2 linked regions of the Homo sapiens genome follow. The protein of the gene in region 2 interacts with the protein of the main gene of each other region in a biochemical or structural test. Each region holds a gene or a part of one and is shown on either strand. Other genes may lie near its edges.

Evidence for each region. Proteins that work in one complex are often made in the same cells at the same time.
Region 1: the proteins of MAPK1 (region 2) and PTPRR form a complex in vitro, tested with the Homo sapiens proteins (2 studies listed by BioGRID, with this or other methods).

The regions. Positions count from the first base shown.
Region 1 is NC_000012.12:70,640,570-70,645,390, reverse strand, and holds part of PTPRR (receptor-type tyrosine-protein phosphatase R isoform 1 precursor), read left to right. Parts: intron 1-4,821. UniProt on the Homo sapiens protein: Sequesters mitogen-activated protein kinases (MAPKs) such as MAPK1, MAPK3 and MAPK14 in the cytoplasm in an inactive form.
Region 2 is NC_000022.11:21,801,000-21,805,820, reverse strand, and holds part of MAPK1 (mitogen-activated protein kinase 1), read left to right. Parts: intron 1-4,821. UniProt on the Homo sapiens protein: Serine/threonine kinase which acts as an essential component of the MAP kinase signal transduction pathway. MAPK1/ERK2 and MAPK3/ERK1 are the 2 MAPKs which play an important role in the MAPK/ERK cascade.

The sequences.
Region 1 (4,821 bases), on a different chromosome or scaffold from region 2:
TATTTAGTACTCACTGAAGGGCAGTTACTGTGCCAAGAGTTTTGTGGATTCTCTCATTTAAACCTTGTAAAACTTGAAGCCTTATTAGATAAATACCTAAATACCTTATTAGCCAGGCCAGTGGTTTTCAAACTTCTTTGTGAACAATGGAAAACTTTTTGCAGGCAGAATCTTCCACAGAACACCAACACAGAAAACCAATAAAAAACACAACTTCCCTGGTCAAAGCTGGGATTGGCATCTAGTCCTAATGACCCATCCTCCTCCTCTGCCCTGCCCAGGGTCCTCAGCCACCTTTGTAGAACCCTGGGCTTCTGGGGATTCTGTGAATAGCCTTCAGCCAGACATTGATATGCTCTGATTCATTTAATCCTCACAACCCGATGACGTTTGTCATTTATGCCATTTTACAAGTGAGAAAAGCCAGGTTGGGAAGGACTAAATGACTTGTCTAAAATCATTTAGCTAAGTAAGTTAAAAAAACAAGGATTCAAACCTGAATCTGTCAGACTCCAAGCCTACTATTTTCATCATCTGCCTCCACTGTGCCTGTCTTCTAGGCTGGTCAATATTTAGAAAGATATTTGGAACTTAATGGGCAAACTAATGTCCTCTGCCAGATTTGCTCTTGGTTCTCCAGGGTCTTTGGGGGCCTCACTCCAGAGCCTCCTAACCAGTCCTATTTGACCAGATGGTACCAAAGAGTAACAATAACAATAACAATAATAATAGTTGACATTTATGGTATTGATATGTGCTTGGCTATGTGCTAAACATGTTAAGTGATAGTCCCATTTATTTCTCACAACAATGCTATAAAGTAGGAACTATTGTTTTTATTGTCGCATCATTTGCAGATGAAAAAACTGAGCACTGCAGAGATTGTGTAGTTGGGTAAAATATCTAGTAAGTGGTGGAGACAGAATTTGTCTTGACAACAGTGTATGCTGTCTTTTTCCCTCTTAACATACTCTGGTCCCCCCTGGTAATGAACTTGGCACCATTCTCTCAGCTAGCTGGGGTTCTCTTGACATTTTTATTTGACCTTACTCTTTTTTGGTAAACTAACTCCTGCTTAGCAGTAGGTATTTTCACTTAATGTATTATACCTCCTGGGAAAACAAACGTGTACTGGAAAAGAAATATCTGACGCACAATAAAATTTTAAAGAGTTTATTTAGTAAGAAGCCAGTCATACATTGGGAAACACCAGACCAAAAGAGGTTTAGTGTTCCAATGACAAAACGCCAGAGGCAAGTATTTATTGGGAAAGTACAGAAACAAACAATTTATTTGGTTGGTTTGCAATTACATAATTGCCTTTTTTCAGGTACTGTATTGGAAAGTCCTTACTGACATAACAATATGTGAGTTGGATGCTTATGATTGGCTGGGGTTATGTTTTAGTTCTAACATAAGCATTTATCAGATATGAACCTGAGGTAAGTTTCACTTCTGTTTGCAATTTAAGGTGCATGCATATTGGTGCACACCTGTAGTCCCAGCTACTTGGGAGGCTAAGGAGATCAGTTGACCTGGGAGGTTGAGGCTGCAGTGAGCCACGATCCAGCCAGGATGACACAGTGAGACCCTGCCCCAAAAAGAAAAAGAAAAAAAAAGTAAGAAAAAGAGTACCCTTGTTTCTCACCTCCCAGAACCACTTTGTATTGGGAACTTTATATCAGTAATATAGATCCAGATTTTAGCAAATCCATGAAACCTATCTGACCTAAGAGCTTCCTGGAGTCAAGTCAGAGCTCTCCTGAGGATGAATAACTATAGAGCTCTCTTGAGAGTTCCATAGTTAACCAAGCTTTATACATTTATTCCATAAATATATTTTGTATACAGACACTGTACTAGCTTCTTAGGTGTTTCTTTTTTTGCTATGACCAGCCTATCTAAAAAACTGCATTTGCCAGGCATGGTGGCTCATGCCTGTAATCCCAGCACTTTGGGAGGCTGAGGTGGATGGATTGCCTGAGCCTAGGAGTTCAAGACCAGCTTGGGCAACATGGCAAAACCCTCTCTCTCTCTTAAAAAACAAAACAAACAAAACAAACACAAAAAACACACACACACAGAAAAAATTAGCTCAGTATGGTGGCATGCACCTGTCATCCCAGCTACTTGGGAGGCTGAGGTGGGAGAATCACCTGAGCCTGGGAGGCCAAGGCTGCAGTGAGCTGTGATTGCATGACTACACTCCAGCCTGGGCAACAAAGCAAGACCCCATATCAAAAATAAGAAGAAAGAAGACTCTGTTGACCTTTCTAAGAATGGATTACCTGTTATAGAGCAAATGCTATCCTCTGGCCTCAACCTCCTGTGTAGTTGGGACCACAGGCATATACCACCATGTCCAGCTAATTTTTCTTTTAAATTGTAGACAGGGTCTAACTATGTTACCCAGGCTGGTCTCGAGCTCCTGGGCTCAAGTGATCCTCCCACTTTGGGCTCGAGTGATCCATCCAGCACTCCCAAAGTGCTGGGGTTATAGGCATGAGCCACTGCATCCAGCCAATAGACTATTCTATATATCAATATATGCAATAGGACATTTATTTAATATTTTCAGAGATGATTATGATGAGTTCCTGAATTTGAACCAGCCTCCAGTGAATGCATCCTGGAATACCTTTTGCTTTCTTTTAGCCTAGAGTTTATCTGTTTTCACATGACATGAAAATAGCATGACCTGGGTAATTCATTTGACAAGTATTTACCTAGGACTCGTAAGTGCTTTTTATTGTTACAAGTAGAAGAAGACCATGCCATTATGCTTGTAGGTCTTTAAAGGACCTACAACCTAGTTGGAAATAATTATAGAATGGGATTAGATAGTATATATCATGATATCAACTTACTCATATTAAAGACCCTACTTTGTCTCTTTTTCTATTTTTTAATAATGCCTTAGATAAAAAGATGTAAGGGATCCTTGTTAAATACCTGGGAGACACAACGCTGGGAGTGAGAAATGGAAGACTAATATATTGACGATAGATAGTGATCCAGTAAACAAGAGCATTGTGCTGAAACTAACAAGTTGAAATTAACAAGAATAAATAGAAAGCCTTGCATTTAGTTTCAAAAATCCAGTAGCATAATTACAGGATGGGAGAAAGCTATAATGTCCACATTCAAAAAAAGTCTTGTTGACTTTTTATTTAATCTACACCGTCAGTTAGTATCTTAAAATACTACCGAGAACCAGGCACCATGTAGGCACTGGGGGACCTCACCACCTGATGCACCTGCAAACACAGATCTATTGGTCTCTAACGTGCAGCTGGAAGAGAAAATAAGCCTGCTTCATAGATCTCATCAGAAGGAGACACAACTCTCTAAGAAGGTCATATTTGATAAAATAGCCTGTAGAAGAGGGAGACTAGAGTGGTGAGTGACAGAAAAACCAGGCTGTACAGAAATATTGAGTGACCACAGGATGTTTAGTCTAAAGAAGAAAAGATTATAGGACTTTGATGGCTGTTTTCCAGCCTTTGGAGAGCTGTTGTGTGACTACAGGGGAGCCTTAAGACGTCTTTTGGGTTATTTCAGTTGGACCAATGCGGTGAAAGTTAGAAAGGACAGATTCATGTTGATGTCTTAAAAGTTTTCCTGCCAACCTTGGAAAAGGCTGCCTCTAAAATTGCAAGATTTCTAAAAAAGCTATATTGTCAGTGACTAGAATGGATGATCTCTAAGAATTCCTCTGATGCCAGTTTTTTTCATTTTTATTTTCCAAATTAAGTGGGAGGTAAGAGAACTTTTCATATACTTTCCTGAAGCCTTCAGACCTGCAAGAATTTTGCCAGCCCACAATTAATGAGTATGCTTCTCCATCTTCCCCACTTTCACTGGCTAAAACAACCTTGATTTAGTGAACAGAATGTCATAGTAAATATACTCCAACCATTAAATTACACCACTGACCCACTTAGGGTGAAACAGTTATTAAATTCTAAACTGTGTCTCCATTCATTCACCAGTTGGACATGTAAATACCAGTGCTGACCAGAACATACAAGAAGGGGAAAATCTTGCCTCAAAGTGAGGTAAATGGTGAGAGGAAGCTGACAGACCAGAGCCTAAGAGGTGGAGCACATAGAAGCTTCCACATACTGTCTGCAGCTCAAGAGGGAGTAATGGTGCCCTGAGCTGTGCAAATGCCAGAGGAAGGGAGGCACCTCTCAGCTCCCTGGAGCTACCCTAATATTTACTGTGGTGGTGTCTCCCAAGCTTCACAGTTCAAGCCAGCATCTTCGGAACACCTGCTATGATTTTAGATGAGCCCAGATGTCATCACACAGCTAAGAAGATAAACCATTACCACATTCTCAGCTGGCCATTTCTGTTGTTCACTTCTGACCAAGGAATACTTAGCCCAGAAGGTTGCCTTCAATGCAACAAAATGTACAGCTCTAGGGGAGGAAGACCAATTAAATACTTCTGTCAATAAGTTGCTGTCACCAAAAACTGTGAATTTACCTCTTTATTTTTTGCCAATTACATCATTTTGACATCATGTTAATTTTCCTGGGGAATCACTGTTTAGTTTAAAACAAGGAAGTTTTACTGCTCTAATATTGACATAGATTGACAAATAAACATAGAAGCCCAGTTTTTATTATTACCATTAACTAGAAGTCTTGTTACAGTGAGACAAGATATCTTGTTTTTAAGTTGAAGTGCCTAAATAATCTGAAAGTTATTTTGAATGATACTAACAACCACTTGGAAAAATCTGGTTAAAACATAGAGTTAAACTAAAAGATAAGATCAGTTGCATGATTGCAGAGTTACAGAGAATTTACAAGA
Region 2 (4,821 bases):
TATATATTGAAAAACCCTTTCACTGAAGCATAGTTATATTTGTCATTATTCATATTTTAAATTACACCAGAAATACCCAAAAACATGTTTATGGCAAAAATGCTAATAAAGTGTGGTAGTCCTCTTCTTCTTCCTTATCCCATTGCTCCTTTCTCCCCAGAGATACCTTTTTTTTTTTTTTCTTAAAGACAGAGTCTTAGTATGTTGCCCAGGCCGGTCTGGAACTCCTGGGCTCAAGCAGTCCTCCTTTCTTGGCCTCCCAAAGTGCTGGGATTATGTATGTGGGCCACAGCACCAGGCCGTGATAACTAACTACTATAACAAATTGGTGGCCAGTTGCGGTGGCTCACGCCTGTAATCCTAGCACCTTGGGAGGCCAAGGTGGGCCTTATCACCTGAGGTCAGGAGTTCAAGACCAGCCTGGCCAACATGGCGAAACCCCATCTCTACTAAAAATACAAAAATCAGCCGGGCGTGGTGGCATGCGCCTGTAATCCCAGCTACATGGGAGCTGAGGTAGGAGAACCGCTTGAACCTGGGAGGCGGAGGTTGCAGTGAGCCGAGATCACACCACTGCACGCCAGCCTGGGTGACAAAGCAAAACTCTGTCCTAAAAAACAAAGTGTATTTTCTCCCAAAGTATTTTCTATGCTCTTGCATACATGTGTATTTTTATACTTTATATAGATAAACAGGATCACGTACATTATGTGTTAGTTTTTTTGTTCGTTTGTTTGTTTTTTGAGATGGAGTCTCGCTCTGTCACCCAGGCTGGAGTGCAGTGGCGCGATCTCAGCTCACTGCAAGCTCTGCTTCCCAGGTTCCCGCCATTCTCCTGCCTCAGCCTCCCGAGTAGCTGGGACTACAGGCACCTGCCACCACGCCTGGCTAATTTTTCTTTGTTTTTGTATTTTTGTAGAGATGGGGTTTCACCGTGTTAGCCAGGATGGTCTCAATCTCCTGACCTTGTGATCCGCCCACCTTGGCCTCCCAAAGTGCTGGTATTACAGGCGTGAGCCACCGCGCCTGGCCTTATGTGTTAGTTTTAAAATCATGTTTTGTTGGTGACATTTTTCTTCAATAAATTTTATTCAAAAGATAGCAGCAGAAAACTTAACGTCACTGACTTTAATACCTAATAAGGCATTCCAACTAAATAAGAAAACCCCAAATTCTTTACAGTCCTCAGAGTTCTGAAAATATGCAGCATTTACATATTTCTGTTTTAATGGGTGTTACAGGTAAACGAGGGAAATTTATGGATATCTTAGATGTGACGGAGCGATGTCGATTCAGTCTAAAAAAATGCACAGGAATTCAAGAAGACCTAAATAAATGGGAAGGCATCCCATGTCTGTGGATCATAAGACTTAATACTGTTAAGATGGCAGTATTCTCCAAATTGATTTGCAGATTTAGTGCAATCCCTATCAAAGCCCCCAGTTGTTTTTTTCTGTAGAAATTGACAGGCTGATCCCAAAATTCATATGGAAATTCATATGGAGAACTGATACACTTCCTGATTTCAAAACTTACTGCAAAACACAGTAATCAAGACAGTGTGCTACTGGCATAAGAATAGACATATAGGTCAGTGGAATAGAAGTGAGAGTCAGTAAATAAACCCGTGTATCTATGGTCAACTGATTTTTGGCAAGGATGCCAGGACCATTCACTGGGGAAAGAATAGTCTTTTCAGCAAATGAATCTGGGACAACTGAATAGCCACATACAAAAAGATGAAAAAATTAACTCAAAATGGCTGGGTGCAGTGGTTCGCGCCTGTAATCCCAGCACTTTGGGAGGCCAAGGCCTGTGGATTGCCTGAGCTCCGGAGCAAGACCAGCCTGGGCAACATGGCAAAACCCCATCTCTACCGAAAATACAAAAAAATTAATCTGGGCGTGGTGGCATGTGCCTGTGGTCCCAGCTACTCAGGAGGCTGAGTGGGAGGACTGCTTGAGCCTGGGAGGTGGAAATTGCAGTGAGCAGAGATTGCACCACTGCACTCCATCTGGGGTGACAGAGTGAGACCTTGTCTCAAAAGGAAAAAAAAATTCAAAATGGATTGAAGAACTCAATTAAAAGCTAAAACTTTAATACTCTTAGAAAACATAGAAGTAAATCTTTGCAATCTTATGTTAGGCAAAGCTTCTTAGACATGACACCAAAAGCACAAGCAACAAAAGAAAAAAGTAAGTGGATTCCATCAAGATTAGAAACTTGTGCTACAAAGCAAACCATCAAAAAAGTGAAAAGGCAAGCCACAGAATGAGAGAAGGTATTTGCAAATCATACATCTGATAAGGGACTTAAAACTAGAATATATGAAGAACTCTTATAACTCAATAATGAAAAGATAAATAGCCTAGTTTAAAAAATGGACAAAGGATCTGAATAGACATTTCTCTAAAGAAGATATACAGATGGCAATAAGCACATGGAATGATAGATGCTTGACATCATTAGTCAGTAGAAAAATGCAAATCAAAATTACATTGAAACAACTTCATGCTAACTAGGATGGCTGTAGTTAAAAAGTCAGATAATAAGTGTTGGTGAGGATTCCACTCCTTAGTGAAAATGAAAACATGCATCTATACAAAAACTTGAACACAAATCTTCATAGTGGTATTGTTCACTATAGCCAGTAAGTAGAAACAATCCAAATGTCCAGCTGATGATGAATAAATACAGTGTGGTGGATCCACACAGTAGAAGAGAAAGGAGTGAAGTACTGATAATGCTACAACATGGATGAATCTTGGAAACATGTCTGTGAAGGAAGGCAGCCACAGAAGACACATATTGTATGATTCTGTTTACGTGAAATGTCTAGAATAGGCAAATCCATAGAGACAAAAATTAGAATTAGTGGATTACTGATTGCCTAGGGCTAGAGGAGTTGGGAGAATAAAGAAGGAAGGAATACTAACTCACTGGAATTTCTTTTTGAGGTTATAAAAATATTTTCAAATTGGATGGTGGTAATGGTTAATTTCCACCATTATAATACTAAAACCATTGAGTTATACACTTTAAATGAGCAAATTGTATGGTGTGTGAATTATAGGTTAATAAAGCTGCTTAAGTACATATATATGTATAGCAATAATCATTTATTGGATTTCAGTTCAACAGACACTCCTATGAGAAGCCCTTTGAGATACGCCAGACAAGAGAGATGAGGGTCTGCCCTTGAAATCTGAAAACTGATAGATCAGAAATCTGGTAGACAGTAGGTGATTATAATGAGATGTTCTGTAACTGAGATGGAGAAAAAGATGGTGTACAAATGCAAAGGAGAGAGGTGGGCTAGCGCTGGCTGGGACTGGGAGGCAGCAGGAAGAAGGTGGTATCTGTGCCGGCCCTCGAGGTTGGGTAGCTTTTCTTGCGGGAGGCCAGTGGCTCTATTGGACATAGGGTATCATAGGCAGAGAGTACAGAAATAAAATAAGAAGGAAGGGACTACTACCGAAAGCACTGAGTCTTCCTCCCTGTGGCTGCAGCATTGGATGAGTAATAGGGAGTCATCGACACTAAGCTAAAAAGGTTGGTTGCAAGTAGATCGTGGGGAACCTTCTAGAACTGTGTGTAAAAAGCGGTGGGTTTTGTCACGGTGGGTGAACACGGTGGCCAATGTCCAGTGAGATGTAAAGGACAGCTTCCTTCATCAGATATTGTGTGGATTGGACTCTGTCCCCTCTTAGGATCCTTCTGATACAGGTTTATGTCTTTTCCACATGGGATGGAACCAGCTCCTTTACCTGGATCAGTGCAACCAAGAGTCAGGTGGGCACAAAACGAATAAAGCTATGTTTAGGATGGCTGTACTACTTCTTTGGCACTTAATGATTGTCTTGAAAATTTGCAGTGAATATTTTTATGTCTCCTCGTGTTTTTTTTTTCTTTTGGTTATCATCATAGCCCTGTTATGGCAGATTGCTTTTGTTTTTGGAGAGACATTCTCAATCAATATTTTAAGCATATAACATTTCTGGGAAGAATTGGCTCTTATTTTTGCTTGAAAGTGTTCATCTTTAAGAATAAAACAAATAGAACCAGACTACTCTCTCTGTTGTCTCTTCCCAGTTTATGGACTTGTCTTTAAGGCCATTCTGTTCACCTACTCACACTCACACACACGAGTTGTTGGCCGTGGCATAATTTAGGCATCGTCTTGAAAACCCAAGTTAACACAAAGAATCAGAAGCATAACAAATTGACTAACATTTTATTTTATTTTATTTTATTTTTATTTTATTTATTTTTATTTTTATTTTATACTTTTTCGAGATAGAGTCTTGCTCTGTTGCCCAGGAGTACAGTGGCATGATCTCAGCTCACTGCAACCTTCACCTCCTGGGTTCAAGCAATTCTCCTGCTGAAGCTTCCTGAGTAGCTGAGATTACAGGTGCCCACCACCATGCCTGGCTAATTTTTGTATTTTCAGTAGATACGGGGTTTCACCATATTGGCCAGGCTGGTCTCGAACTTCTGATCTCGTGATCCGCCCGCCTTGACCTCCCAAAGTGCTGGGATTCTACAGGCATTTGCCACCACACCCGGCCTTTACTGATATTTTAAAAGTATACAGCAGTCAGGTGCCATGGCTCACGCCTGTAATCCCAACACATTGAGTGGCTGAGGCAGGCGGATCGCCTGAGGTCAGGAGTTCAAGTCCAGTCTGACCAACTTGGTGAAACCCTGTCTCTACTGAAAATACAAACAAATTAGCTGGGTGTGGTGGCGCACACCTGTAATCCCAGCTACTTGGGAGGCTGAGGCACGAGAATCAGTGGGAGGCAGAGGTTGCAGTGA